Linked DNA regions of Homo sapiens: all the other regions are linked to region 3. The links come from fine-mapping of genetic effects on gene expression. A gene starts in region 3. Each other region holds a variant in brackets. All regions are shown on one strand. Distances are from middle to middle. Region 1 overlaps PLA1A (phospholipase A1 member A). Region 2 holds the start of POPDC2 (popeye domain cAMP effector 2). Region 3 holds the start of COX17 (cytochrome c oxidase copper chaperone COX17).

Region 1 (9,935 bases), 46 kb before region 3:
GTTCAGTAGTGGGTCCAAGTATAGCAGATTCAGATGAGAGTAGGCAGGGCAAGCAGGCAGCAGGGATGGCATGTCCCAACAGATGGAGAGGACATAGGAATCAGGTCCCTGAGAGGAAACAGTACTCTGGAATCCAGACAGTGCGGGTATCAGGGATGTCAGTAGGGAGGAGGGCCTCAGTCACCAGCCCAGGAAGGGCTAGCCAGAGCCTGGAGAGCACCCACTCCTGGGAAAGGAGAGCAGTTCTGGGTCAGTTACCAGAATGGAATCTGAGGCACAGGGTCAGTCAGCAACGGAGTGCGAGCTGAGGGCCAGACTAGCGGCCAGGAGGGCTTGGTGCTGGGTGATTCCTGAAACTGGGGGTAGTCATTCCCTTCCTTTGTTGGGGCAGACTTGGGCTTGGGGGCTGGTGGGACTACGCTTGAAGTGAGAGGGCAAGGAACCCCAACTGTAGGGAGCCACAGCCTGCAGGGGATAGGAAGTCAGCAGCCATGGTGCATGCTTCTTTAAAAAGCAACCGGTTAGTTATTCACAAGCCAGCGGGAGACAGATTGTCAGATAATGTCACTGTCTCAGTGAGAGTCCGGTCAGGAAAACAGAGGAGGTCCAAGAGAAGGAATTTAGCACAGTGAACTCATTACAAGTGTGTTGGATGAGCTGGAAAACAGAGATGGGGACACAATGCAGAGATTAATCACAACAGGAGCCAATACAACCCTAGGCTAGAGGGACAAAGCAGGAGTGGAGTTGGCAAAGCTGGGTCCACAGGGAAGGCTGCTTGGCAGGAGCTGAACCCATGGGAAGTGCGGCCCCTCTGGAACCCCTGCCCAAAGCAGCCACCCACCTGAGCATGCTTCCACTGGGTTAGACCTCACTGGAACCTGTTGGTGGGGGAACCTGCAGGGGAATAGATCAGTCCAGAGCAAACAGGGAAATGACCAGTGCACACACACTTAAATGAGTGAGCAATGCCCTGAGAGTGACAGCATAGAAGACAGAGTCTGACTGAGTCCAAGGAAATGATGAGCAGGCTTTCCAGGAGCTACCCAGGCCAGGCTTAGAGAGAATGTGACACCTCTGGTGTGTCTGGAGCACAGATTTGGGGTTGTGGGGATGCTGTGAGGCTGGAGAGGCAAGTCAGAGCCAGACCCTGCCAGGCCTTGAAGGACAGGTTTTTATCCTGAGAGTAGTTTGGAGAGCCACTGGGAGTTTTAAACAGGACAGTGATGAGATCAGATGTGAGTTTGGAGATATTTCTCGGGTTGGGATGTTGGACATGAACTCTGCTGTGAGGCACTACAAGTTTCTGCTGGAAGGAGTGCATTTCACTCCCAAAACCGTGGCCACTAGCTGGTGTTCCTTCTGGCTCACCCAAAGTCACACAGCTAGGTACAGCCATCAGGATTCCAGCACAGGCCTGCAGGTGCCCACAGAGCCTTGCAGATTGTGGCTGGATATCAGTAAGCCAAGTACCTTTCATTAGACCCGCTCAAGGTTGTGCTACTTCTAGAAGGGTGTTTTCATCATCTTCTAGCCCATTGGTAGGTCCAGCAACACTGGCAGGAGTCATGAAAATGACCCACAACCCTGACTGCACGTTAGAATCACCTGGAGAGCTTTAAAAAATACTGACGCCAAGCCCCCCAACCCAGACCAATCACATCAGGGTCTCTGGGCATAGGCTCCACAGCTACATTTTAAAAGCTCCCCGAGTAATTCCAGTCAACATCCACAGATTAGCGCTTCCTCCTCCATGAAGAGGTTCACATAACTCTTTTGAAGAAGGCACCAGAACATGATTCACTTCTTGCAGATCAGAAATTGGGGGAAAAACGGGGAGGTTATGTGTGGTCTTTTTCCAAATTTCTATAGCTTTATGCGACGCTAAGATTTCCTTCTAATTGGAGAATTAACCTGGGCCAACTCCCCAAACCACTCACTTAAAAGATTTTTCATATTCCTTGTATTTTACAAACTCTTCAGTCTAAGCTTAAAGGAAACAATCTTATTTATTCCCTCTGTAATATTTCAAAAGACTTGTGAATTTAAAAAAAGAGGGAATGGTTTTTAAACAAAATTATACATGATCTTCCCTCAGAAGGAAAAAACAAGTGATATGACTAACACTGGACTAAAAAGAACACAAAGAGGCCCTATCACCACTCTGCGAAGGCCAGAAAGGAACAGGAAACCCAGTTGGCAAGGGTGGTTCCCCACACCACCCCTGCCCCCGCCGAGAGGAACGCAGCGCCCTCCTTCTTTCCTCTTTTTCAGAGTCCCACTTGGATTCCAGGGAGGATCACAAAGGGCCCCACAAGTCAAATTCCTTCCCTAGCTGGGTGGTGCAGCTCTGCTGGGCGCCCTCCTTGATCCCCCACTCACCACCCTCAGGATCTGCTGGCTGGGCTGTGCCTTGCACTCAGCGTGAAGACTTTCCTCATTGAATCTCACGATTTTTTGCTTTTGTCTCCAGTACCTAGTACCTAGGGGGTACCACAGCCCTTTTGGAAGCACCCTGCTAGGTTGATCACTTCATACTCCTCCCTCATCTTTGTCTCAGTCCAAAGTGGTGCCTGAATCTTTAAACATAAAGGGAATCTGGGGGGGCAAAGCCAAGAGGCTGGGTTAAGACAGAACTGGATGCCATTTTCACTCTGAGTCTCCTCAGCTGAAGTCAGTATGAACCAAACCCTACGGTTCAAGTTCATAGCAGCATGTAGGGAAGCTGGAACTTACACCTAGTTGCTATGTGACTCCACAGCCACCTTGCCAGCTTAGGTAACTTGTCCAAAGCCATACAGCTGGGAAGACAAACCTGGGTTCCACCCAACTCTGTCTGCGCTTCATGATGTTTTCTTGTTGCTGTTTCCACCCACACATTCATACTTAGCCTAAAACAGAAAAGTCCTTACACAGAATTCTTTGAAAAGGAATGTCCTAAAAGAGGGTTTCTACTTCTGGGTAATTAGATCTGAAGGTGAAGATCTCCTCCAGCTAGGAATCCAAGAACGAGGAACAGTTTTTCCAGATATGAAAATCCAGGAGCTACTATTTTGTTGCAGTGTCCACTTGTTTATTCTAAAAAATCAACAACTACTTTCTTGGTCATATTCAAAGCTGTAGGTGTGGGCAGAGGGGCTGGTGAAGGTGACACAAAGGACTGTGGTAAGGAGCTAACCCCTTGGTGCATGACAGCCAACCAGTGCCACCAGCAGAGCCCGATCGGAGCCAAAGGGGAAGTACAGGTGGTAAGGGCTACAGTCATTTACTTTCCCTTTACCCTTTTCTTGCAGACCTAAGCAGCAACGCTATGGGAAAGGAATCATAGCCCATGCCACCCCACAATGCCAGATAAACCAAGTGAAATTCAAGTTTCAGTCTTCCAACCGAGTTTGGAAAAAAGACCGGACTACCATTATTGGGAAGTTCTGCACTGCCCTTTTGCCTGTCAATGACAGGTAAGCCCCAGTATTCACCTCTGCACCAGATGCACTCACACATCAAAGACCAGTCTTGGCATTAGATGTGCTGCCTATTGAGGTTCAATCTCATCATAGTGATTATCATCTTAGAAGCAGAGATGACAGACACCCGGTGTTTTCCAGAACCTCCTGTGGGACCATCTTGGGTTGGGGAAATTCCACTGTATTTGTTCTGCATATTTGGTTTCTATGTAAGATTTTATTAGAACAAAGTTTTCTCATTGCATATTTTCTCCTCTGTGGCCTCCACTCCAACTGTGTCATGGGTCACATTCATGGGTGTGGATCCAGAATCCACATCCCCTTTCCCTTCCTCTAAAGGCATTTATGTCATTAACCTTACCACCCCTGGGCACTTGGACCACAGGAACTGGCTCTTAATTGTAGGTGATTGCAGATTTCTTTCACCAGACATCATGGGAATTCAAAAGCCACACAATGCCAAGCCCTGTCTCCTCACCAGCCACTGCTCTCTTATTGCTCTTCTCTTCCAGAGAAAAGATGGTCTGCTTACCTGAACCAGTGAACTTACAAGCAAGTGTGACTGTTTCCTGTGACCTGAAGATAGCCTGTGTGTAGTTTAACCTGGGCAGGACACATCTCCCTGCATTTTTTTTTTTTTTTTGAGAGAGAGGTGTGATGAGGGATGTGTGTGTGCAGCTTATTGTAGACCATTACTACTAAGGAGAAAAGCAAAGCTCTTTCTTATTTTCCTCATAATCAGCTACCCTGGAGGGGAGGGAGAACTCATTTTACAGAACTTGGTTTCCTTTGCCGATCTTATGTACATACCCATTTTAGCTTTCCCATGCATACTTAACTGCACTTGCTTTATCTCCTTGGGCATTC[G/T]TACTTAGGATTCAATAGAAACATGTACAGGGTAAACAATTTTTTAAAAATAAAACTTCATGGAGTATCTGAATCATTTAATTGTTTTACTTGAATGGAATTCTGTTACCTACAAAAAGTTGAGATTTATACTCTGTGGGATTGGAGAAAACAGTATTGCATTATCGGTATTAAAATAGCAACTAAAAGAAGTACTTGGAAAAAGAGAGGGGATGAAGGGTAGGGAGGAAGATGGCACCATTTACCAACCCTTACCATTACCTCCTCTGGATATCTGGAAGGTTTGAGGGATCAGAGAGATCTTGGGGAATACAGGTAGATTTCCTCTGGGTTAGTGTTTCCCAAACTTTGATCTTTGTAAATAACCTTGTATCAGCCGCAGCCCAGCAAAAAACAGATGGTGCGCTCAATCTGGGTTATTTGAGGAGAATTTAAGAAAAGGACAATTTGCCATAGTCTTTTGTGGGGCAACCACAGGGATAATGCAGTTCCCTGAAGCTACTGGCAGTAGAAGCTGCTACTACCCTACCTGTGAAGAGGCCAGAGAAGGAGGGGAAGCACCAGAAGGCTGCAGACCTGCAGTGCAGGGACACAGCCAGCCAGCAGCAACCCCGCAGGGAGGGAGCAGAAGCACAGGTTCTCTGACTTCACTCTTCTTCCTCTCCCATTTTCCTGCTAGTGCTCCCCATTAAGGACCCCCAACAGAAGCCAGAGGACAAATAACACATTGACATGGCCTAACCAGGCCCGGGGCATACAGCAGGACAGAGAAGGTTGGAGAGTGGATGGGAAGGGGGTGCGGAACTAACAGATATGGCACACGCCTTCACCACTTTCCCAAATCCAGGTTGCCTCGGATTCTTTTATTCTTTAAATTCACTTTTTAAAAAACATAAATAAATGAGCTTTAAAAGGAAACTGCTGACTTGCTGATTCACTCTCCACAATGAAGACAGGGAGAATGATGTAAGCAACAGGCTGCAATTACTTCATCTGGGCCAAGTCAGCCAGGGCACTGAGAGAGCTTCGGCCTTTGTCCAGGCCTTGGAAATGCAACCAAAAGGACAGGTGAGGCTCACGAAGATGTTTAACTGTCTGCATGATCACAGTCATGTCTAAAGAATACACATGTTCCCTGCTATGTAGGCTTGCAATTTTCTATTTTGCCTCAAACCAAAAACCCTCCTTTCCTTTTCCTTCTCTTTACTCCACCCAGGTTCCTCCCTAGAGACAGTCTTACCCTGAGCTGTATTACGCTGCACTTCCATTTGCCATCTTGGGAGACACTGCTTAGCACATACTTCTTCCTTAGTTTTCCCCACTGCTCGTTGCTTTTTTTTCCAAATGTGTATCACATTTCTGTGATGAAAATCATATTGTCGGCCGGGCGCGGTGGTTCACACTTGTAATCCCAGCACTTTGGGAGGCCAAGCTGGGTGGATCACTTGAGGTCAGGAGTTCAAGACCAGCCTGGCCAACATGATGAAACTCCATCTCTACTAAACATGCAAAAAAAAAAAAAAAATTAGCTGGAAATTAGTCAGTGTGGCGGCACATGCCTGTAATCCCAGCTACTCAGGAGGCTGAGGCACAAGAATTGCTTGAACCCAGGAGGCAGAGGTTGCAGTGAGCTGAGATCATGCCACTGTACTCCAGCCTAAGAGACACAGTGAGACCCCATCTCAAAAACAACAACAACAAGAAATCATGTTTTGTGATGTTGATGCTAACTGGTGTTAAACTCACTCAATCTGTTTTTCAGTGGCCTCAAATTCCATTCTGCTTTTGGCCATAGCCCTGGGTTTCTTTGCGAATATTTTCTTATTTTTAAACACTGTTAGACTTTCTCACATGTTACTTTGCTCCGTCAGAAATTTTGGATTATTACCTTACATGGAAAAACCAGTTTCTCTACTCATAAATTAATCCTAGAAACAAATACAATGAGAACATTATAATGTTTAACATTCCAACTAGATACTGTGGTCTGATGCAGGCTTAAGTCCTGGGCCTGTTTTTTCCTTTTTTTTTTTTTTTTCCTTTCATGTTCAGGAGGCAAAATTTTTTCTTTACTACAAAGGGGAAATTTGCAAGTATGTGAGAGATGTTAAAAATTTATCAGCACTGGCCAGGCACGGTGTTGTCCAGCACTTTGGGAGGCCAAGGCAGGCAGATCACCTGTGGTCTGGAGTTCAAGACAAGCCTGGCCAACATGGTGAAACCCTGTCTCTACTAAAAATACAAAACATTAGCCGAGCGTGGTGGCAGGCGCCTGTAATCCCAGCTACTCGGGAGGTTGAGGCAGGAGAATCGCTTGAACCCGGAGGGGTGGAGGTTGCAGTGAGCCGAGATCGAGCCACTGCACTCCAGCCTGGGAAACAAGAGCAAAACTCTGTCTCAAAAAAAAAAAATTATTAACACTGAATGGAAACATTTTTCTATATGTAATCACTGGATGGAAAGGATATAAAAAAATGCATAACTGTCTATGAGATGGAATGTTGTTTAATGCTGGGTCTATGTGGTACCTAAAATCATCCTGTCCAGGGGCACGTGGCCCACACTTTGGGAAACATGGCTTTAAGTAGATGGGATGTCTGTGGGGTCAGGGAAAGGGAGAGCTAACACGGAACTCTGCTCCATGGCAGAACAAAAGCAGAACTTGGGTCTCCCTTCCACACCCACTTTGCTCACTCTGCTGCAGTCTTTTCATGAACAGAGACTATTACAGAACTAATTAAATTCAACAGGCAGATTCACCACCAAGTGCAAGATACACTGCCGTAAGATACAGAACAATGTGACCTTGGAATAGGCACGCAACAAAAACATCCAACATTGCACAGCTTTTTACTATGTTCCAGGCACCATTCTGAGTGTTTCATATGTATTAACATATTTTATCCTCTCAGCAAGCCTATGAGATACATGCTATTATTATCCCACTTTATAGATAAAGAAATCAAGAGGCTGAGGAACCTTCAAGATCACAGGTCTAGTAAGTAAAGGAGCCAGGATTCAAATGCCAGCTGTCCGCCCCAGAGCCAGGTGATTAATCACCACTCTAACCAGACTCAGAAACATGACACAGAAGTAGCCCCTAAAGGTCCACAATGCAACCCTGTGGGACTGGATACATAATTTACAGGGTTCAGTGCAAAATAAAAATGCAGGCTCCTTATTTAAAAAGTTGAGAATTTCAAGATGGTGACAGCAGAGCATGAAACCAAGTGTGGGGCCTGAGTGGAGCCCTGTGCCCAGGTGTACAGGTCGCATGCCCAGGAAACTGGCCTTGCAGCCAGGTGAGCCAGCTGTCAATTCCCAGAGCCGGGCATTCCAGCCGAGCTTGTGTAGTGCAGCTGACTGTGAACCCAGACAAACCTCAGTTGGCTAAGGAAGAAAGTTGTGAAGGATGAAAAAAAGGTCATAGGGCCTTTGAGAGGGATGCTAGTGTTTCTTACAGAAAATATTCAGACCCAGCCAGGTGCGGTGGCTCACGCCTGTAATCCCAGTACTTTGGGAGACTGAGGCGGGTGGATCACCTGAGGTCTGGAGTTTGAGACCAGCCTGGCCAACATGGTGAAACCTTGTCTACTAAAAATACAAAAATTAGCCAGGCATGGTGGCGGGCACCTGTAATCCTAGCTACTTGGGAGGCTGAGGCAGGAGAATTGCTTGAACCTGGGAGGTGGAGGTTGCAGTGAGACAAGACTGTGCCATTGCACTCCAGCCTGGGCAACAAGAGCAAAACTCCGTCTCGAAGGAAAAAAAAAAAAAGAAAAGAAAAGAAAAAAAAAAGAAATGAAAATATTCAGACCCCAGGGGACATGCCTGTATTAACCATCACTAGATTTTCAGATGAATGTTGTTGAAGGTTCCTCTACACTAGAGGCTATGGGAGCTTGGTTCCCACTGCACAGCTTGGTGACAGGTAGGAGAGAGCCCAACTCCAGCAGCATTTTGGAATGCTGTCCCCAACATCTGGAGCACAAGATGTCAGAGAGAGACTGGGATGGGTTGATAAGGGAGAAGATGACTTCCTAGCCTCTTTCGAGGTCTGATGATCCACACTTTGAGAATAGACGTAGGAAAGACCTTCTACTCCTGTGTCCTACAGGTGTGAGATTCTCTAGCAACTGCAGAGTGGTTAACAGCAAAGAGGACATGCGTACCCACTTCTGAATAGCAGGGCTGGCTGCTTCAATAGAGCGAGAAAAAGGTGGGAGTAGAAGGACAGGGGAGAGGAGAGGAGATGGAAGCATGGATGGAGGTGACTGCAGTCAGATAAACAGTTGTTTGGCACACAAACCCAGCGTTCCATAAAGTCCTATGTGGACTCTGTGAGTTCACAATAGTTTCCCTTGCCAGCAGCTCACAAAACTGTGCCTTGATTACAAATCTCATGACAAATCAAGCCCTTGACCAACAGGGACTTTGTCTTGTCTGCTGTTGTACTCCAAGTCCCTAGCACACAGTAGGTTCTCGAATATTTGTTAGAAAATGAATAAATAAATGGTCCCAGGAAGTATTTTCACTTCTAAGGCTTAATTATTGGCAGAATTAACCACTGAAGCCATCTCAGTGTTGGCTTTTCTTTGCGAGTAGTTTTTCACTAATTTAATCTCTTCACTTGTTATAGATATATTCAGATTTTCTTTTTCTCTTGAATCTATTTCAGTAATTTGTACCTTTCTAAGAGCTGTCCATTTTATTTATCTAATTTGTTGGTACACAATTGTTTGCAGTATTCTCTTATAATTCTTTTTATTTCTATAAGGTCAGTAATGATGCCTCCTCTCTTATTCCTGATTTTAGTAATTTAAGTCTTCTCTCTTTTTTTCTTGGTAAGTCTAGATAAAGATTTGGCAATTTCATTGATCTTTTTGAGGAACCAACTTTGGTTTTCCAGTCTCTAGTGTGATAATTGCTACTCTAATCTTTATTGTCTTTCTCGATCAGATATTATTCTACATCATTTTTAAAAACAGCTAAAGCCACAAATCTGCCTTGACCCTTTTGTTTTTGCTTCTGCTCTGTCGATCTTCCTTGAGGCAGCAGATCTTTCATGACCTATTGCCCAAAAAGGATAGAGTCACAGGGTCACAGACAATTCTTGGAAAAATTTACATTGGTGAATATATCAAAATGATATTCTGCTACATATGCATAACTTATCTTCACTCTTGGACCACAAAGATCTATTTCAGAGACAAATTTGGAGTGGAATTTTCCTTAACATTATCCTCAATAGAGCCTAAAGTATAGAATACACTCATTTTCTCACTCATATCCTGAGACCTCAGTGGTCGTTTACCAGACGTTGGAATTCCTAAATGAATACCATTGCCTTAAAAATCATATTCCTCAGGTCAGAAGGCTAGAGTGCTCTAGTACAGGAGTCCTCAACCCCTGGGTGAGTGAACATTAAACCTGAGCTCCATCTCCTGTCAGGTCAGCTGTGGCACTGGATTCCAGGAGTGTGAACCCTATTGTGAACCGTGCATGCAAGGGATCCAGACTGTGCTCTCCTTATGAGAACCTAACTAACGCCTGATGATGTGAGGTGGAACAGTTTCATCCTGAAAATCATCCCCCTCACCACTG
Region 2 (9,935 bases), 20 kb before region 3:
TGCTGTGTTCTTGGTGACTAATGAGTGTCACAGTGCCGAACACACAATGAATTCTGACTTAATTGAATTGTCGAGAGGTGTGCTGGAATGCTGATTGATTTATATTAGGTACAATGTGAATTATAATTTAGGCTGTCACTGTGGATTGCTCTCAGTCAACAAAGACTATGTAATTGCAAAAGGCAAGGACAGGATGAACTCTAACTTAAGATAACACTTGACATTTGCAAAGAGGAAATGGGACTTTACACAGCCAATAGCAAATGTGTGGCTCTCATTACTCCCAAAGGAGGTACACGCTAAAAATATAAATGGGAGGAACATGACCATACCTACATTCCAGGCTGAGAGGCCATGTGAGGTTACAGCCCTTCCTCTTGAGCGTAACTTAGGGGAGGACACCCGGCTTACCCACCACCTGTTCCTCCGTGTCAGTGTCAGAAAGAGGCCTGGTCCAGCTGGCTCAGGTCCTGACTGAGCCCTCCTGGAGGTTCTCATGTGCCTGAGAGAGTTCCTGAAGAAGGTTTCTGGACTAGTTAGGGAGGGTGTGTGGACGGAGGTCAGGGTAGGAACATGATGGAAGTGGATCTGTGGCTGGTGACCCTGGCAGTGGGATCAGGACTGCCTCTCAGGCTCCATCATCACAGAGCCAAGTGTCAGGGTGGGGGCAGAAGCAGGCCCTGCCAGGTAGCACTGCCCGGTGTGTGTCTGTTCCGGGGTTGGCTCATATGTTGGCTTGAGGGACTCCCTGATAAAAGTAGTAGGAGACACATGGAATCCAGTGTTTCCAGGTCCAGCAAACTATCCAGGCAGGGGAGTCCTTAAAAGGGTGAGTGAGTGTGTGTGCGCGTGTGTGCATGCGTGTGCATGTGTGTGTGTGTATGTGTGTGTGTAAACTCTACTCTTCTGGTGACCTTCCCATTTTAATAAAGAACAGAAATGGTAGATCCAGGCAACTTGGCTTTGTCACTTTCTAGCTGAAGACCCTGGGCAAATTACTTGATGTTTTTGGGCCTTAGTTTCCTCAGTTGTTAAATGGAGTAATAATCATATTCAACCCATAGAGTTGTTATGAGAATCAATGAGGCAATATGATACGTAGTGCCTGCCACATGCTAGCCATTCAATAAGTGAGAGCTACAAAGAAAGTGACCAAAGCCTGAGGGATTGGCAGAGATAAGAAGAGTAGGGGCCAGGCAGCCAGGAACCTGCATTGGAGCATGTATGTGAATGCCCCATGGAGTCCTCTGGGACACCAGCTGCCCAGTGGCAAACCAGTTCAGCAATTCTTTTTTTTTTTTTTTTGAGACGGAGTCTCACTCTGTCGCCCAGGCTGGAGTGCAGTGGCGCAATCTCGGCTCACTGCAAGCTCCGCCTCCCGGGTTCACGCCATTCTCCTGCCTCAGCCTCCCAAGTAGTTGGGACTACAGGTGCCCGCCACCATGCCCGGCTAATTTTTTGTATTTTTAGTAGAGACGGGATTTCATCGTGTTAGCCAGGATGGTCTCGATCTCCTGACCTCAGGATCCACCCACCTCAGCCTCCCAAAGTGCTGGGATTACAGGCGTGAGCCACCGCGCCCGGCAAGCAATTCTTTACTGAACAGCTGCTGTGCTCCAGGTACTTTCCTTTAGAGTCTGGGAACAGAGAGGGAAAAGCCTAGATTTGTACTTCAGAGTTCACTGTGCAGAAGACAGAAAGGAGACCAGATTATTAGAACAGACAGCAAGATGTGCACCAGTTAGCATAAGTAAAAGGACTAGAACAGGCACACAGGAGTGCTAGGCTGTGGGGTGGAAGCTGGTGAGGCTGTGGGGTGGAAGCAGGCTTCACAGTGGAAGTGAGGTTCCGTGGTCTCATCTAGAAGGGGAAATGCATTTCAGAGGGGAGAGTAGGGGCCAAGGCATAGAGCTGCAAAACAATGTGGTGTGTTTAGGGAAGTACTAGTGGTTCAGCATGGCTAGTATGAGCAAAAAATATGAAGGAGGGAGAGCTGGAAATGCGACTAGAGAGCACTAAAAGGTTTAAGTTACCCTATAACAAGTGTGGGTTTTTATGTTGTGGCACTAGGGTCTTCCAGAAGAGTTTAAGCATACAAGTAACATGGTCTACCCAGGGGCCAGCATCTTCCTACCCTACCTCACCTATGGCTAGGAGCCCAGGAACTCTTTTCAGAGGAAGAGTGCCCCCGCCTGTAGCTTCACACTGGCAGGGGTGCGAAGGACAGATGTAAGAGGGGAAACATGGAGGCACGGATATTGCTGGGCTACAGTGGGATGGGGTGAGGCGGTGCTGCCACCAGGCTCCCTGTTACCTGGAACACCCCCTCCTCAGAAGGCTGTAGTGATTCCCACTCAGGAGAGTCCATGAACTGGTATGGAAAGATGTAGTGCAGAAACTGCCCATCCTGGCTCACACGAACCCTGGCAAGGGAAGAGAAGAGATCATGTGGGAAAAGGAAAATGGCTCTCCAAGCCACCTATGCTGAAGTTAGGTGTCGCTGATTAACATGAATCTTCCTGTAGAAATACTTTGCCTAAAGCATGGTAAAACCCAAAGCTAGACTAGCCAGCCTAATTACTGCATGCAAGTAGTTCAGAAAAGGAACCCATTGAGACTTCCAGAACCCTCATTTTTCCTCCTCCTTCTCCTTACTGGTGGTTCTCAATTTCAGGCTGCAGAGTAGAAGTCCCAGGGAAGCTTTTAAAAAAAAGCACCTAGGCTTGGGCCTTATCCCAGAGCAATTAAACAAGAATCTCTCTAGGTAGGAACTGGATATTATTAGTATTTACATCTCCCCAGTGATTCTAATGTGTAGCCAAGATAGAAACTACTGCTTAAGAACTCTGCTGCTGGCCCGGCGCAGTGGCTCACACCTGTAATCCCAGCACTTTGGGAGGCTGAGGCAGGTGGATCACCTAAGGTCAGGAGTTCGAGACCAGCCTGGCCAAGAGAGTGAAACCCCCATCTCTACTAAAAATACAAAAATTAGCCAGGTATGGTGGCGGGTGCCTGTAATCCCAGCTACTTGGGAGGCTGAGGCAAGAGAATCACTTGAACTCGGGGGTGGAGGTTGCAGTGAGCCGAGATCACACCACTGCACTCCAGCCTGGGCAAAAGAGCAAGATTCTGTCTCAAAAAAAGAGAAAAGAATGCTGCTGCCTATTTAAGTTTACATTTACATTAATTAAAATTAAATAAAATTAAAAATTCAGTTCCTTACCTAATTACAATATGGGTGTTCAATAGCCACATATGGCCTGTGACTACCATGTTGTACAACATAGATCTAGAACGTTTCTGTCATCACAGAAAGTTCTGTTGGATCCGCTGCTCCACAGATTCTCCTTTCTCCCTTCCCATTAGCTACATGAAGATTCATGCTTACATTTAACCACTTTGTAGACTTTGAAGGAAGTGGCAAGTCTACCATATGCCAGACTCTGCTAGACACTTTACCAGTGTTCTCTTATATAATGTTCACAACACCACAAGGTAGATTATTCTTTTCTGTATTTTATAGCTAAGGAAACTGGTGCTCAGAAGGGTTGAGTGGCGAGCTTAAGGCTACATAGCGATCAAGTGGCGGAACTAAAATTCTATGTTCTTAGCACAACACCATGTTGCCACCCTATTACTACAGCTTTGGGTAGATGGTAGTGGACTCTCCTAGCATGACCCTTTCCCGGACCTCTCTAACCGTAGGTGACAATAACAGCTTGTTTCTTTAGACAATGAGATCCCATGCACCCTATCCAGCTGATGGTCCTAGAGTGAACACCTGACTCAAGCTGAGCCAATCAAACTCCTTCCCTGGGAATTTGGAAATGGAATTGCGTGTAAATCATGCCTTGGATGGGGACAATTATCAGGCATTATTAACAAAACTAACACACTCCTCCCTGAAGGAACTAAAAAAAATTTTTTTTTATCACGTAACTCAGACTTTGAAAAGCATGGGTCCCAATTGGCTATAGAGAAAATAAACTTGAAATCACATAAAATGTCCTAGTAGGACATGTTCTTGTTTCTAGCACTACCTGAGGCTTAGGTGCATGTCTTTCCTTGAGTTTCATAAGAAATCCTTGTATTTTTTTAAATAAAGACCTTTTTTCCCCCTTCTGTTGGCTAGAGTGGGTTACTGTGGCTGCAGCCAGAAATCCGAATTATTTGCTTTAATTTTATGAATATTCTTAAGTCTTAAGTCTTAAGTCATTAACTGCTCTTGACTTGCCCATGACCACAGGCTTGGTTTCACAACTTAAGGGGTTAGGAGCCTTACTATTGCTGCTTGGTGCCTTTGTACCCTTGTGGCTGTACCTAGCCTAGTGCTCTGCCCCTGCAGGGTAAAAAGACTGCATTCCATGAGAACTTGTTAGAACTGATGGCATGTCATTGATGATGCCTGAGGACAGGGAGTGTATTTCAGATGTGAGGCCACATCTGGAAGAAGATTAGAATCCAGTATGGGCTTTATCCTTCCCCCAACCCGACCCCTGCCCAGAAAACTCAGAGTTTCATCTTTAACCTCTCTTCTAAAGTGAGTTATATCAGGCAATAGGGGTGCCTCTATTAGGCAAAGGGGGAAGATGAAAAAGATCTCTAAGGTACACCTTGTTCATTTGGGGGAGATATCCTTCCATTATTTCTGGAGGTTTATTGGCTAAACAAATATTTCTGGAGCATCTCTCATGTTTCTGGAGATCTGGGAATGCAGAGATGGGCACAATCTGGTCTTTGTCTTTGAGGATTTCACAATTTAGTGGAAGTCACAGGCACATAAATAACTGGCTGCAAGTCAATGTGATAGGTGCTATTGTGGAACAGTAACAGAGGAGAGAGAAAGATTGGTTCTCTTTGGGCAGCAGACCTCTCGAAGGAGATGACATTTGAGCTGAATTTTGAGGGATGCAAAGGGTATTGAGAAGCAGATAAAGATGAGAATGAACAAAGACCTGGGAAATCCAGTGTGGCAGTCTGTTCTCCAGTATCTGCTTTCTTCTCTTCCTTAATGGTGCTAGATTTTAACTGGACACATGACTGCAGAGAAAAAAATCAACATTTCTCTACTTCCCTGGCTGCTAGGCATAGGCAAGTGATAAGTCCTGGCCAATGGGATATCAGCACTCCTGAGCCTTGCTCTTAATGAATGCCTAGGTATACA[T/C]GCGTGTATACAAATTACCAAAGACCAGCACCAATTAAAAAAACAATTGCACCTATTATCTGACAACCTAAAGCTGGAAGACAGGAGCTTTATTCAAGACTCTGAATAAATATGTATGGAAGGGGGAAAAGAAGGAAAGAAGGAAGCAAGAAAGTAAGGATGAATAAATGAACAAAGGAAACCAAGGAACAAACTCACTTGTGTCACCATAAAAGGGGATCAAAACCTCACTGAAAAGCTTCCATAGCAAAGGAAGACAGCAGAAGAGAATGGCGCTGCTGCAGCATATGTCAGCTCCTTAGGCGAGGATTTCGGCCACCCAGGCAAGCCACCAAAGAGTGACAACCGTAGAGTGTAGATAATGTCTAATGATCTTCGTGGCTCGCTGAAGCCATTTAAATCGGAATGCTGTGCCCTTTATCATCTGTTTCTTCTTCCTTCTTGATCTACTGGAAGATGGATGATCTTCTCCTAAATGAATAGCTTAGATAGTTAGTTGCCTGCTCAGGGGGTTGTATATATGGAAGTTTGTGTTTTGAATTTTATATGAGAGAAACGTCTAAGTTAAGCGCTGCTTAACAGGGTGATAGACTTTGAGAAAGTCACTTTCCCTCTCTGAGTTTTGAAAGAGATTGGTTTCCTTTATTAAAACAAAACAAAAAGACTTCTGAGGTTTGAGTGAAGGACTCTAGAGAACAGTGTGCATGTGAGATGTGGAAGTCTGCACAAGAGTCCCCACTTCCTGGCACAAAGTTCTTGTCTGCTGCTTTGAGATGTTTGGTCCCTTACTGTAACCAGCCCAAGGTTCAGTGATTCTCCTTTAAAACTAGAGCCCAGTCATAGACTAGAAGCCTTTTCCTCTATGTCCAGCTCAGCAAAGCTGAGACAGGGTGACACTGAAAGATAACAAAACTCTTACTCCAAACCTTGAAAGGCAGGAAAAAAAAAAATCAAAATTGTCTAATTTCTGACTCAGCCTTTTGATGCTAAGTATACCAGGAAAAGCTACACCAAGGGCAAGCCCCCCTCTCCCCTTCACTGGGAAGTGATCTTATACAAGTTCACAGTAAATCTATCCTAACTGAACTATACAGTAACCATACATGCTTCCAGCAAATGGGCACCCTACACTGGAGGGAGCACTTCTGCTGCTCTCAATTTCCTCCTTTGAACAGACGAGCTATAACATCATGGGTCTCATGAATGAGCAAGTTCCCTAAATTGTCTTTAAGCATGGAACTATAGGTGCAAACATTTTCACAATAGTTATATGTATTTGTATTTACATCTATATCTGTTTACAAATAATCGCATTGGTTTACACTTTCAGTTCACCAATAAATGAAATGAAATGTACCCTCACAAAATGTCTCCCCTCCTAGCTCACTCTATCCAGGACCTCTGAGTTCAAACAAAATCAAAACATATATACATGATACTTCAGGTTCTATAAATGAATACACAAACACGTATTATTACTATTAGTGGTAGTTGTAGTACCATTAGCATCATTGTCAAACTTTTTTCTCCATTGTGTGGTTGGCAGTATTATCTGGATTTGCTTTTTTTTTTTTTTTTTCTTGGAATTGGAGCCTTCTAATTGCCATCTTACCTTTTCTATCACATTCTCCTGGTCTCAAGAAAGCTGGTGGAGTGGGGGTTGTGGGGCTCAAGAGCCACTAGGGCAGTATAAAAAAATCCACAATTGCCTACTAAGTGTGTAGCACAGAGCCCCGTGATGTTTTCTCAGAAGAAATCAATGCCCAACATTCACATCCAGGTTGACTGGGCATACACTGATCCTGACTAAGACCATTTCTGCCCATATCTGACTGTCAGCCTTCTCCAAAAGAGGCGGTGCTTCCACAAAAGCCTTGATGAGATAGGTGTATCACTTCTCTTCTCCCATTGTTGGGCCCTCAGATTTACAGTACTGTACTTGACTTCTTAGTCTTCAAGAACCTCAATAGAACAACTGGAAATGGAAAGGTGGGCAAGGGGTATTCACTCTCCCTACCTGGCTACATACAGCTACCCCAAACACAAGTGGGGCTGTTTGCTTGATGCCTTGGCAGGGAACAGGGGTTATGAGAACCACCCCGCTATCCCGACCTCCCATTTCTGGCATTGTTCCCTGAATACAGTTGGTGCTTAGCAAATGTTGAATTTGAGTAAGGAACAGATTAACCTTATTGAAATGTTAGTTTTTCAAAGCTTACAGAGATATTGCTGCAGCTTAGGCATGACACACTGATATGTGTGTGGTGATGGTAGAGGGGTTATTTAAGGCCCAGGCTCAAGACACACGCACTGCACACCTTCCAGCAGCAAGTGCACATACAATCATTCTTGCCAACCAAGATGCCTCATGAACTGGTTTCTTCTTGGAAAATGCCAAGAAAGAGGAAGCAACCCCACTCTTAGAAAAATCTATTTTGGTTTGTTTGACTTGTCACATCCTTCCCTCAATGGAAGGGGACACGAAATGGAAAGGGACATGAAATGGAAAGGGACACACTAGGAAATGAGAAGTGTGGGCTGGGGAAAGAAATTCTGGGCAATGGATAGAGTAGCTTACCGGCCAGAGAGCAGCAGGGACAGGCGGTTGATGGGTGTCTCACCCTCCACAGCATAGGTCTGTTCAGTGGCCAGAGTTAAGACCTGCTCCTCGCAGCAGTGAACAATCTCCTTGTATGTCTGTAGGGGCACCTGCAAGGGCAGGCACAGCGTCTTGTAGAGGAGGTCAAACTCCTCAGGGAGGGTGTCCTCACGCAGGCGGTATACCAGGTGTGCCAGCTGGAGCAGGCAGACCACAGCCAGCAGGAAGCTCCAAAGAACAATGTCCAGGCCACAGGCACTGAACCAGCCCCACAGCACGCAGCACAGGTAACCTGCACTCAGGAAGCCAAAAAGATAGAAGCATCCATACACCCCACTGCCCCCCATGAAGCCCAGGAGTAAGAGGCAGTTGGCTAGGTGGTAGACAGCCCCTTCCACATCCTGCTTCCACCTAATGCACGCTGAACCCTGCAAGAGAAGCTGGCCCACTCTGCTGCTGTTGGCGCTCATCTTTGGGGCCTCTCAAAGCCTCACTGGGCTCTAATACTGTCCTCACATAGGAAATTCAGAAAATGAATGAATCCATCCGCTCAGGGGTCTTCTCACCTCCGGCTTCTCACTACCGACTCCACCTTTCCTAGAAGGAATGCTTCCGGTGGCTTTGGGAAGGAATGATGGAACATAGTACACTTCATGGAGAATTTAAAAACCTCTTTCTCTCTCTCTCTCTCTCTCCCCCTCTCCCCCCCTCTCTCCTCCCCACCACCCCCGCTGTCTCAGCAAGGCTCTGGCTCTCCCTGCAGAGCTCTGGCAAGCTTCCTTGGTTCCATGTTTCTTGGGAGTCTTCAAATTTGGTTCTTAGCAGAAAAACCTAAATAGTCCCAAGGGAAAGTAGCACTACAGGACTGAAAAGTCCAGCAGCGTGGGATGATGCGGCCACATCCTGCTCTCTGTTTTTCCCAAGCAGAATGAGGAGAGCCAGCATGGGAGGCACATTTGTGTTCCATTTGGAATGTGTTCTCTCTTGGCACCGGAAGAAAGGGTGACCCCAGATGGATACCATGTTTGGAATTGGAATCCAAGAGGTACTGGCAGTGAGAAAAAACAGGCCAGGCACAGGCAGCCTGGCAGAGCACTTAACATACCTCCCAGAGGACAAGATAAGACCTCAGGGTCAGAGAGACAGACAAGGAGAGAGAAAGGAAAAGTGAGCACAGAATTCACCTGAACACCTCAGGCAGGAAACTGTCCCGAGCTCCCTTTGGGGAGAGCCAGACAGTGCTTCTGAGTGAGGACACATCAGAGTAGGAAAGTATGGGACTATTATCAGAAAAAATCCTAACAGTGAAAGCTGGAAAACCCCCTGAAGGCCTTTATTAAGTCACACTGCAAATATCATTATGTATTTATTTGACATCCATTTAACAAAAGTAGCTATGTAAAGTGGCTTTTTGAATTCTAAGCTGGCTTTCCCCTGCATATATCTGGATCTGGTAATAGTAAACAAATAATAATACATTGCCCAGATCATCATCCCACCCACTCCGGTGCTTCCAAATTATAATTCCCACCTATTAAACACCCATGAAGTGCCAAACCTAGATTAGGCATTTTATACACTTATAAGTTAGTTGTGACAACAATCCTTCAAAATAAATATTATTCTCCTTCTAGATCTGGAAGAAACTGAGGCTCAGAGAGGTAACAAGCTCCCACAGATGGTCTAAGTGGCAGAGCCAGGATTTGAACCCAAGTCTGTCAAACTTAATACTCTGTCCCAAGGGGTTTGCCAGTAAGTGGAAGTACAGTACTAGATCCATGACTCCCAACTCCACACTTCTATGAAGTCTGACAATTTTCAAGGAACTTCTGGTTGAACCTAGGAATCTACTTTGGGCTGCCAAGAGATAAAGCTGGAGTATGCAAACATTAGGCTAAGAAATGTTAGTTGGGCACAGTGGCTTACGCCTATAATCGCAGCACTTTGGGAGGCTGAGGCGGGTGGATCACCTGAGTGAGGCTGGAGTTCGAGACCAGCCTGGCCAACATGGTGGAAACCCTGTCTCTACTAAAAGTATAAAAATTAGCTGGGCGTGGTGGCGGGCACCTGTAGTCTCAGCTACTGGGGAGGCTGAGGCACAAGAATCTCTTGAACCTGGGAGTCAGAGGCTGTGGTGAGCCAAAATTGTGCCACTGCATTCTAGCCTGGGTG
Region 3 (9,935 bases):
TCTACCACTATCCACTCCTAACTTGAGCAAGTCTTTTTTGACTTCACTGTGCTTCCATTTCCCCATGGAGGTTGGGGAAATAGGACACCTGGGACCAATAAGGATCCAACACCCAGTCCTCTTCCCAAAATATTATTACACTGAAAATGAAAAACATGGCAGTTTGAATTCTCAGAAGGGTCCTATATGGATTCAGATTGTTCTTCTTGTAACCAGGATTCAATAATAATCAAGTCATATACTTAACAGACCTCAACTGAATGTCTGCTATCCACAACTCTAAAGGTATGAGCTATTCTGTTCTGGTTTTTACAGATGATTTATTTTACATTGAATCATCACAACTCTATGAAGTAGTTTGGGCATGTATTATTGTCTCCATTTTACGGATGAGGAAACCAAGGTACAGAAAGTTAAGGACCTGCCCAAGACCACACAATCAGTTAAGCAGTAGATTTTCTAAGTCTAAAGCTTTTGCATTTTCTTTTACACACAAATGAAGTACACAAACATAATTCTCACTCTCTGCCCTGATAACATAAAGAAAACTATGATATCATATGATACTTTTGAATATATGCCACTTATAACAATTGTACCACCTTTGTGGTTCAGATGAAGTCCAAGATAAGCTTTTGATATTCCTAAAATTAGCATTTCTTTTTATTTAATCACCCCTTTTTATCAAGGCAAGTTCAGCACAAGCCTACAGCTTACACAACTGACGAGGGAGTTAGATCATGAACAAGGAAACCATGTACAAATGTTAAGGTTGCATCTTTAAAAATAGTTAATAAAGTACACATACTTTTTAAGAACACACTCCCCTTCAAATTTACTTATTTTATAAAATAGTTCATTATGGGATTTCTTTAAATAACCATCTATTCTAAAAGCAACTTAAGTATATCATTTACACAACAGTAGATATACCATACTATATATAGAATCACAAAATGTATTATGGTTCTCTTTTTATAAATAATAAGTGAAATTCAGAGGAGTAATGTCTTGATGAAGCTAAATGTAGCTAAACTTAAAAACATGATAAACTAAACATCAGGAGAATAAAAACAAAGCCTCAGGACTTTCAGCCTAGACTGTTTTCCATTACACAGTAACTTCTTATCAGCTTGCGACAAGTTCCTTATCCCTCCTTTTTTATAGCTCAGTGAGGAAGACTGGCCATATGTGAAATTCCAAAGAGGCAGGAAAGAGGTGCAAGGGAAAGAAGCCAGGCTCTCTAGTACTAATATATTGGCATATGGCTTTGGCATTCTCTCTCAGCTGTTATTAAGTTAAAAGTGGTAGTGTGGTGTGGAAGTTAGGGTAGGGGCAAAAAGCAGAGGGAATCGGCATGGAGACTGAGGCTCCAGTTCTGATACTGCACAACCCACCTTGGGGGCCATTTCATAACTATAAGCTTTAATTTCCTTATTTATTCATTCATTTAACAATCCTCCATTAAGCACCTACTATGAGCCAGGCACTGTTATAGGTAGTGGGGATATGACAGTAAATGAAATAGAAAATTCCTACTTTCTCAGAGCTTACATTCTAGCTGCCGTGAAGCAACACAGGTAATTAAAAATATATGTATCATGCAGGTGACAGTGTATAGAATAGAGTAGCCACTAGCCACATGTAGCTATTAAAATTTTTACAAACTAAAAATTCAGTACCTCACTCTCACCAGCCACAATTCAAGTGCTCAACAGCCACATATGGCTAGTGGCTACCAGACTGGCAAGTGCAGATACAGAGCATTTCCATCTTCACAGAAAGGTCTTAGGACAGCACCATGATAGAGTGATGGGGAAGGGATGTAATTTACATGGGGTGTTGAGGGAAAGCCTCTCTAATAAGGAGACTTTTGAAAGAGACCTGAGTAAAGAGGGAGTGGGGTGAGGGGGTGAGCTAAGTTGATAACTGAAGAAAGAGCTTCCAAACAAAAGAGTATCATTTGTTTGTGGAATTGTTGGACACATACCACTTAAGGTCCCTTTCAGCACTTAAAATGGGTTAAGAGTTCCAAGTTCTTTTAAAAATGGCCTGAGGCCCACCGCCCTGTCTGGGATGTCAGGAGTGCCACTGCCCGGCTGCCCACTGTCTGGGAAGTGAGGAGTACCTCTGTCCGGCCACCCCGTCTGGGAAGTGAGGTGCCTCTCCGCCTGGCCACCACCCCATCTGGGAAGTGAGGTGCCCCTCTGCCCGGCTGCTGCCCCGTCTGGGAAGTGAGGAGCGCCTCTGCCCAGCTGCTGCCCCGTCTGGGATGTGAGGAGCGCCTCTGCCCAGCTGCCGCCCTGTCTGGGATGTGAGGAGCGCCTCTGCCTGGCCGCCCCACCGTCTGGGAAGTGTGGAGCGTCTCTGCCCAGCTGCCCACTGTCTGGGAAGTGAGGAGTGCCTCGGCCCGGCTTCTGCCCTGTCTGGGAAGTGAAGAGCACCACTGCCCGGCTGCCCCACGTCTGGGAAGTGAGGAGCACCTCTGCCCGGCCGCTGTGCAACCTTCCAAGTGTGAAGTGACAGCCTTGTGTGTGATCTTTTCTGTCTTCCCCAAGTTTGCATTTTTGACATTAAAGTTTACTTTTTAATTAAAAAAAAAATGGCCTGAGGCTTTAGTTTTATTCGAATAAAGCATGCTACAATTCCATTTTCATTTTTCAGAAAGCAATACTTCCGTGGGATACCCACTCCCTACTTAAAAGCATTTCTTGGCCAGGCATAGTGGCTCACACCTCTTAATCCCAGCACTTTGGGAGACCAAGGCAGGAGGATTGCCTGAGTCCAAGAGGTTGAGACCAGCCTGGGCAAGATGGTGAAACCCCATCTCTAAAAAACAACACAAAAAATTAGCCAGGCACGGTGGCCCACACCTGTAGTCCCAGTTACTTAGGAGGCTGAGGGGAGGATCACCTGAACCTCCCAGGTTGAGGCTGCAATGAGCTGTGATTGGGCCACTTCACCCCAGCCTGGGTAACAGAGTGAGACCCTGTCTCAAAAAAAAAAAAAAAAAAGCATTTACTGAAGTCCCACAATATTTATTAGAAACAAGAAAGAGAATATGTTTCTTTTAGTTCCCTCAGTCAATTTTCCTAAAGCCATGGGACCTAAAGGCTTTTGTCAAACCCTTTCTTAAAAGCTCAATTCTCCCCTTCCCCAATCCGCTAAATGACTGTCTTTACTGACATAATTTACTCCCTTCATTGGGAACTGAAAAATCATGGTTTTTTCAAATTGATACTTAAGCATTTTAGATTAACCAGGTGAACTACCTTTCAGAGAGAATGTAGCCCAATTGTTGCTAAATCTGTAAAGCAATACACAACTTTGAAGCAAGAAGCTTACCATTTCATATTTTAAATCCTAGGGCTCTCATGCATTCCTTGTGGGCCTCAATTAGATGTCCACAGTGTTCTTCTCCTTTCTCGATGATACTATAAAACAAAATGTACTTGTTATCTAAATATGCATTAAGCACATTATTAAGTATGCATGATAGTGATGGGGAGTGAGACAAAACACGGGTATAATGGAATGTAGCTGGAATTAAAACAAACGCTATTACCTCAAACAGCTTTGTTTTTATTTGATCTTATGATATGCCCATGCCTATGAAGACATTCCACAGATAAGTGATTTTGGGGGGGAAATCTGATAAGAAATAATCACGCATATTAAATATTGCCTCTAGTCAATATCCAAGGAGTAACACTGCTCTATAAAGAAATAAACTGAGTAAAATATTTATGCTAAATGAAGGGCACAGAGAACAGCTCAATTTTTTGCTTATTATCACAGAGAAATTAACTTTCTGATTTTGCCCTACATTCAAACACAACCAAATAAATCTACTTCTAATTACATCAAAAACATCTGGTAGCCAGGAGACCGAGATAAACACCCCCTCATGATGATCAAAGAATATTTTACTTGTAAAATTCACAAAGTAAAGACTAGGACTACACAGCTTTATTTCTAAGGCCTGAAAATGTGATTTTGCAAATAATCAAGTTAAGCCCAATTCAATTACAAGGAAAAACTGACTCCTGACTATGGATATTTGGGGAGAACCCACGTGGTCTGAGGCAATCGAGGCAAAGGGAATTTAACAAAGGGAATAGGTTCTCCTTCCATGGAAACTCTACCCATCCTTCAATAGCTCAAGAGCTGCCTGCAAATGGGAGATTGCCTGGGATAGTGAGATCATTGTGAAGATAATAGCTAGCATTCATTGATCATTTATTGCCATGTATACTGTGTTAGCCACTTGACATGGCTTGTATCATTAACCTTTACAATAATACTGGAGGGAGTTTCTTTTATTAGAGTCATTTTACAGACACATGAGGCTCAAGGTCACCAAGTTAGTGGATTAAGATTCAAACCTTGACTGTGGATCCCAGACTCTTAATCATGCTGTCATACCATTCAAGGTTCAACAGCACTTACTGTTACCACTGGAACAATTTGTTCAGACTAGTCTTTCAATCCTACCCGTATTATTTACAAAGTACTGAGGATTAATAAAAGCACTGAGCTCCTACACTCTTATTATCCCATTATACCACTAATGATTTCTTTCTTATATCTACTATCTGGGAAGACAAAAGGGGCCAGAGGAAGAGATGCACATTCACGTTATCTGAGGACGTCCTCTAATGAGATTTGCTCCACAAGAGAGGCTATATAAAATGAGAACAAATCTTTTGTGGATTGACAATCTAGATGAACTATTCTTAATACTTTGTCCCCTGCGTCGTAGACTGATTGATTTTCAACTTTTGGTTGTCTTAAAAGGGTTGAAGCGTAACTCTTCAGAACTGTAAGGAATACACTCTGTGTCCTACTGTCTCTAAATTTTGGGAGAAAGCCTTAGAAATTACCAGAAAACCTTTCCTGTTTGGTCTTAACAAATCTATCATAGCCCTTACCACGTCGTATACAAGTCACTGGTTTATGTCTCCATTAACTTTAAGCTCCTTTATATCAAGATGCATCTTTATCCATGTCTACATCTTCGGACCTAACGCAGTGCTTAACCCATAACAGATACTCAACACACATTTGTAGGAAGGAATGAGTGGTTGAAGCTTGCCGTTCTCCTCTCTCTCCATCGTTTCCCGGTACTAAGCTACGGGATAAGTCAACAGAGACCCGACCACGAAACCTACAAGGCCCAATAATTATCTCCAGAGCGCCGCAATGGGGCGGGGCGGGGCGGGGCGGGGGGGGGGGGCAGACAGGGAGGAGGAGTGGGGGAAGGGGGGAAGGAAGAGGGCAGAGGGCAGAAGGCAGAGGGCAGAGGGCAGAAGGCAGAGGGCAGAGGCCGTAGGGCAGAGGCACCGGAAGGCACAGGCCGCGGCCCGGGGCTCGTCGGCCGCGCCCTCTCCGGCTGCGCACTGACCACGCATCGCGCGCCTTCTTGGTCTCCGGGCAAGCGCAGCAGGGCTTCAGCGGCTTCTTCTCCTGAGACTCAGGCGGGGCAGGGTTTGAGTCAACCAGACCCGGCATCTTTCGCGCCAAAAGCAGCTATGAGCGGAGACAGCCAAATCTATGCCAGCCTCGGCAAACGCCGATTCGTCCGCAGTCACTTCCGGCAGTCGCTCTAAAAAGTACAGGAAGTCCTGCTTCTCTCTGACAGGTGGGGAATTTAAAAGGAGCGCGTGCGCAGAAGAGGCAAAATTCGGGCCTTAACGAGAGGGTGCCCCCTTCAGCGCATGCGCAAGGAGGCCCGCTGAACGCTCACCTGGACTGTGGTATTTACACTCTAGGACTCTAGGTCATAGAGTATTTGTTAAATCAACTTGGGGAGGGCTCACGAAGAAAGAAAGCAGCAAGACAACTGAGAGATCTCGTAACACCCGCTCCTCCCCACCCAATATCGAAACGGAAGCCCAAGATGGTGAAATGATTTGTTCAAGCCAAACAGGAGAAACCATAAGTGAAAGCCAGTTCCCTTGAATAACAGACTAGTTTCCCCCTTTTCTTTTATCCGCCTTCTTCCTGATCCCCACACACTGCAGGCCTTTCCTCTCTTTCATTGACCTATTTAAAAATGAATAGCAAGACATAGAACCACCGAGTCCACAACTATTGGGGGAATTTAAAAGGTCCTATAACCCCCTATACACCTCCTACGCACATTAAATCCTCAGCTAATTTGCATTTATAGCCCCCCTCCAACTGATCTGAATTCAGTATGAATTATTCAGTCATATATTCGTTAATATACTGATGAATAAAATTGAAAAATACCATTTCCATAGCATTTCCTCAGGTACATAGATAAACTGGTGCCCGTCTTATTCGCAATGAAATGGATATAATCATTGGATTTTTTTCCTGCAGAGTATTGTTGGAAACAGGCAATAAACTCTTTTTTATTTTATTTTATTTTATTTTTTGGAGATAGGGTCTTGCTCTGTCGCCCAGGCTGGAGTGAAGTGGCACGATCTTGGCTGACTGCAACCTCCACCTCCTGGGTTCAAGCAATTCTCCTGCCTCAGCCTCCTGAGTAGCTGGGATTACAGGTGTGCACCACCACGCCCGAGTAATTTTTGCATTTTTTAGTAGAGACGGGGTTTCGCCATGCTGGCCAGGCTGGTCTCGAACTCTGACCTCAGGTGATCCGCCCACATCAGCCTCCAAAAGTGCTAGGTTATAGGCATGAGCCACCGCGCCTGGCCAATAAAATCATTTTTTAAAGCAGGACTTGGAGGCACTGTTCAATAGCTGCAGGGTGATAGGTATTTTTAGGTACTTAAACTTTCAGCATCACCTAATCAAAGTTTGTTTCTATATTATAGATATTTAACTCAGGGAATTTACAGGCGTGTCTGTGAACTGGTGCTGTATAAGAGTAATTTCTATATGTGTATTTTTCAGGTTACTAAGACCATCCCCATTTTGTCATCTGAAAACTTTCAATAAGGATGATTTTTATTTCCTTCTGGATTGATATTTTTAATAATACAACATATTACCCTCATGTTCTAAATTCACCCTCATCCATTATTATCAATTCTTTCAACTAGGTGCTAACTCACATTGTTTAGAATCTTGCTAATCAAACAGTGCTTCCTGGATGAGCAATATCAACATCACTTGTAACCTTAATATACAATAAAATGTGGTTCAACAAATTATTGGGGAAAAGAAAATAGGCTAACCATCTGGAGAAAATTAAACACTACATTAAAAGGAAGAGCTCTAGATGCATTAAAGACCTAGATTGGAAAGATTGAAATATGAAATTAATAGCAAATTGTGGAGGAGAATATTTTAATACTGAGGGATGGGGGAATAACTTATGTTACATTTCAAAAGTACAAATTGCATGTCAAAAAAATTGAAGAAATTCATTACAGCAAAATAAAGGCTTGGGGTTTTACATACAATACTATAGACAAAGTTAACAAATAAATGATAGAATTGGGAGAAAATATTTGAAATCTACATATTTTTAAAAATTTTAAAAGTTAAAAAACTAATGTGTTCACTTAGAATATGTATTCAGTTGAAACAATGTCACCTTCAGTCGCAATATCTTCCATATATGTAGGGCTGTCGAGGTTGTGAACCATCATTTAATCTTCATGGCAGTCAAAATTATTATCTACATTTATAGTTGGGGAAAAATTGAAGTTCAGAGGTGTACATTTGTTCAAGGCTGCGTAACTTGAAAGTGGCAATCCTGAGTCTCATCATCTTCTCCCTGTACTCTGTCTACTATCCTACTTAATTTATCTAAATGCAAGGCAAGGCCTGGTGTAGTGGCTCACACCTGTAATCCCACACTTTGGGAGGCTAAGGCAGGCAGATCATCTGAGGTCAGAAGTTTGAGACCAGCCCAACCAACATGGTGAAAACCCATTTCTACTAAAAATACAAAAATTAGCCAGGAGTGGTAACCTGTAATTCCAGCTACTTGGGGGGATGAGGCATGAGAATCACCTGAACCCAGTGGGTGGCAATTTCAGTGAGCCGAGATTGTGCCACTGCACTCCAACTTGGGTGATGTAGTGAGACTGTCTCAAAAAAAATTAATTAATTAATGCAAAGCAAAATTTTTTTATTTTAAAACTAATCATTGATCTGTATTCACTTGTGCTATTGCATTTTTATGTATAGGAAATGAACAAGGAAGAAAAGGAAGATAAATATCTAACAGAGTTTAGAGAGCTAAGAGAATTGAGATAAACAGTAGGGACAGATAACAGACCCAAAGACTCAAACAGCTTTTCTGCAATTGAGAAGATTTTTTGGCCCACTGTCCCTCCTTGCTTCAGGGAAGAAAGATTACTGGTTGTGATAACACTGCCTGTGACTTCCTCAGGTTAGCTAATATAGGCAGGCCTCAGGCAAAGAAGTTGAGTAGCAGCCCTTTCTGCACCACACTTCTTTAACCTGCTGTGTTCCAGACATTTACAACCTTTGGTTTCCTTACTGAGTGCTGTAACCCTTAACACTCTTTCAACAACTGCTTCTTCAGGATGAAATATTCTCCTGACTTTGAAAAAAACAACCAGTGGCCTTTCCAAAGTGAAATATTTAGTCATTTATATCTAGCTACTAAACTATCCTCTTGCTTCAGAATGGTACAGCTAACCCACATATGTGGGTTACTTTTCCTTCTACCTTTTAATTTATATGAAGTAAGGTGGAGCGTGCTGGCTCACGCCTGTAATCCCAAGCACTTTGGGAGGCTGAGGTGGGCAGATCACTTGAGGTCAGGAGTTTGAGACCAGCCTGACCAACATGGTGAAACCCCGTTTCTACTAAAAATACAAAAATTAGCCAGTCGTGGTGGCAGGCGCCGGTAATCCCAACTACTCAGGAGGCTGAGGCAGGAGAATCCCTTGAACCAGGGAGGCGGAGGTTGCAGTGAGCCGAGATCACGTCACTGCACTCCAGCCTAGGCAACAGAGTGAGACTTTGTCTCAAAATAATAATAATAATAATTTATATAAAGTAAGCTGTAAGGTCAACTTTTGATTTTTATGTTATCACTATGCTTTTCTTCTTTCTCTATCATTTTTTCTTCTCCTACCCAGTCTAAATGCTTTTATACTCGTGGGATGGCCTGTTTCGGTATTAAAGGAAAGGTAGGAGTATATAACATAAGAAATTTATCCTTTCCCATTCTACCCCAACAAAAATCTTAATAGCCCACTTCCCCCAAGAAAAATAATTTTAGAGAGCTGTAATTAGAGTTTAAATTGACAGTAGGTGGCTGATGAATACCAAATAATAAAAGATAAAATTCACCCATCTGTCTTACAAAGGCAACTCTGAAATTAGTTTGATTCATACCTTTTATATCAAGCTCTTGCTCATCAATTTTGATTTTAACCAGAATTGGAGCTCTTTTAAACCTTTGGAATGCTTTGCTATTACTATAATTGCTAAATTAGCAGGCATTAAGACTTGAAGTGGTGACTGTAGTGGATTTTTTCATAGCACAGTGAATATGTTTATTGTATGTTATTGAATGGGGACATTAGCTACCAGTGGCACCAAACAGCAATTTTGTGGATGCATGACAGCCCTGGTAATGCCAGAAGCAACAACTGAGAAAGTACTTTCTAAAATCCTTCTATGATAAAGGTATTTTTAGCCATTTTTCAGGCCTAACTAATCCCAGGTGTGCCAGCTTTACCAAGTAAGGGTGAGTAGTTGTTGGTGGAGAAGGAGTGACACCATATGTTGAGAGATAAGAATTACAAGACTTAAATTCTCATTGGCCTAATGTACTATGTCTACTTTGTATAAACTAACTTACAAAAGTAAGTAAGGTAATTTTTGTCCTTATATCTGCCCCTGCAAAGGAAAAAATGCTTTCCAATTTCCACAGGTAAATATGTACTGTACATCGTTCTTTATAGCTGCAATTTTATTCAAATTGCCTGCCACAGTTTTATGAATGTTGGTTGTAT

What was found. PIP is the estimated chance that this variant, and not a neighbour inherited with it, causes the effect.
Region 1: its variant is fine-mapped to the expression of COX17 in putamen (GTEx, PIP 0.90).
Region 2: its variant is fine-mapped to the expression of COX17 in fibroblasts (GTEx, PIP 0.96).

Annotation. Positions count from the first base shown.
Region 1 is chr3:119,625,408-119,635,342 of GRCh38, forward strand. PLA1A (phospholipase A1 member A) reads left to right here. Exons shown (of 11, transcript NM_015900.4): 10 at 3,294-3,458; 11 at 3,977-4,404. The coding sequence ends at 4,061. Among named protein-coding and RNA genes, the nearest start is that of POPDC2, 30 kb to the right of the region's middle. The variant G/T (reference allele first, on the strand shown) is at 4,332.
Region 2 is chr3:119,652,191-119,662,125 of GRCh38, forward strand. It overlaps POPDC2 (popeye domain cAMP effector 2), which reads right to left and starts at 8,399. Exons shown (of 4, transcript NM_001369919.2): 1 at 7,743-8,399; 2 at 2,315-2,423. The coding sequence starts at 8,233. The variant T/C (reference allele first, on the strand shown) is at 5,165.
Region 3 is chr3:119,671,800-119,681,734 of GRCh38, forward strand. It overlaps COX17 (cytochrome c oxidase copper chaperone COX17), which reads right to left and starts at 5,607. Exons shown (of 3, transcript NM_005694.2): 1 at 5,405-5,607; 2 at 3,346-3,434. The coding sequence starts at 5,511. The coding sequence ends at 3,350. RefSeq lists an enhancer at 5,786-6,045.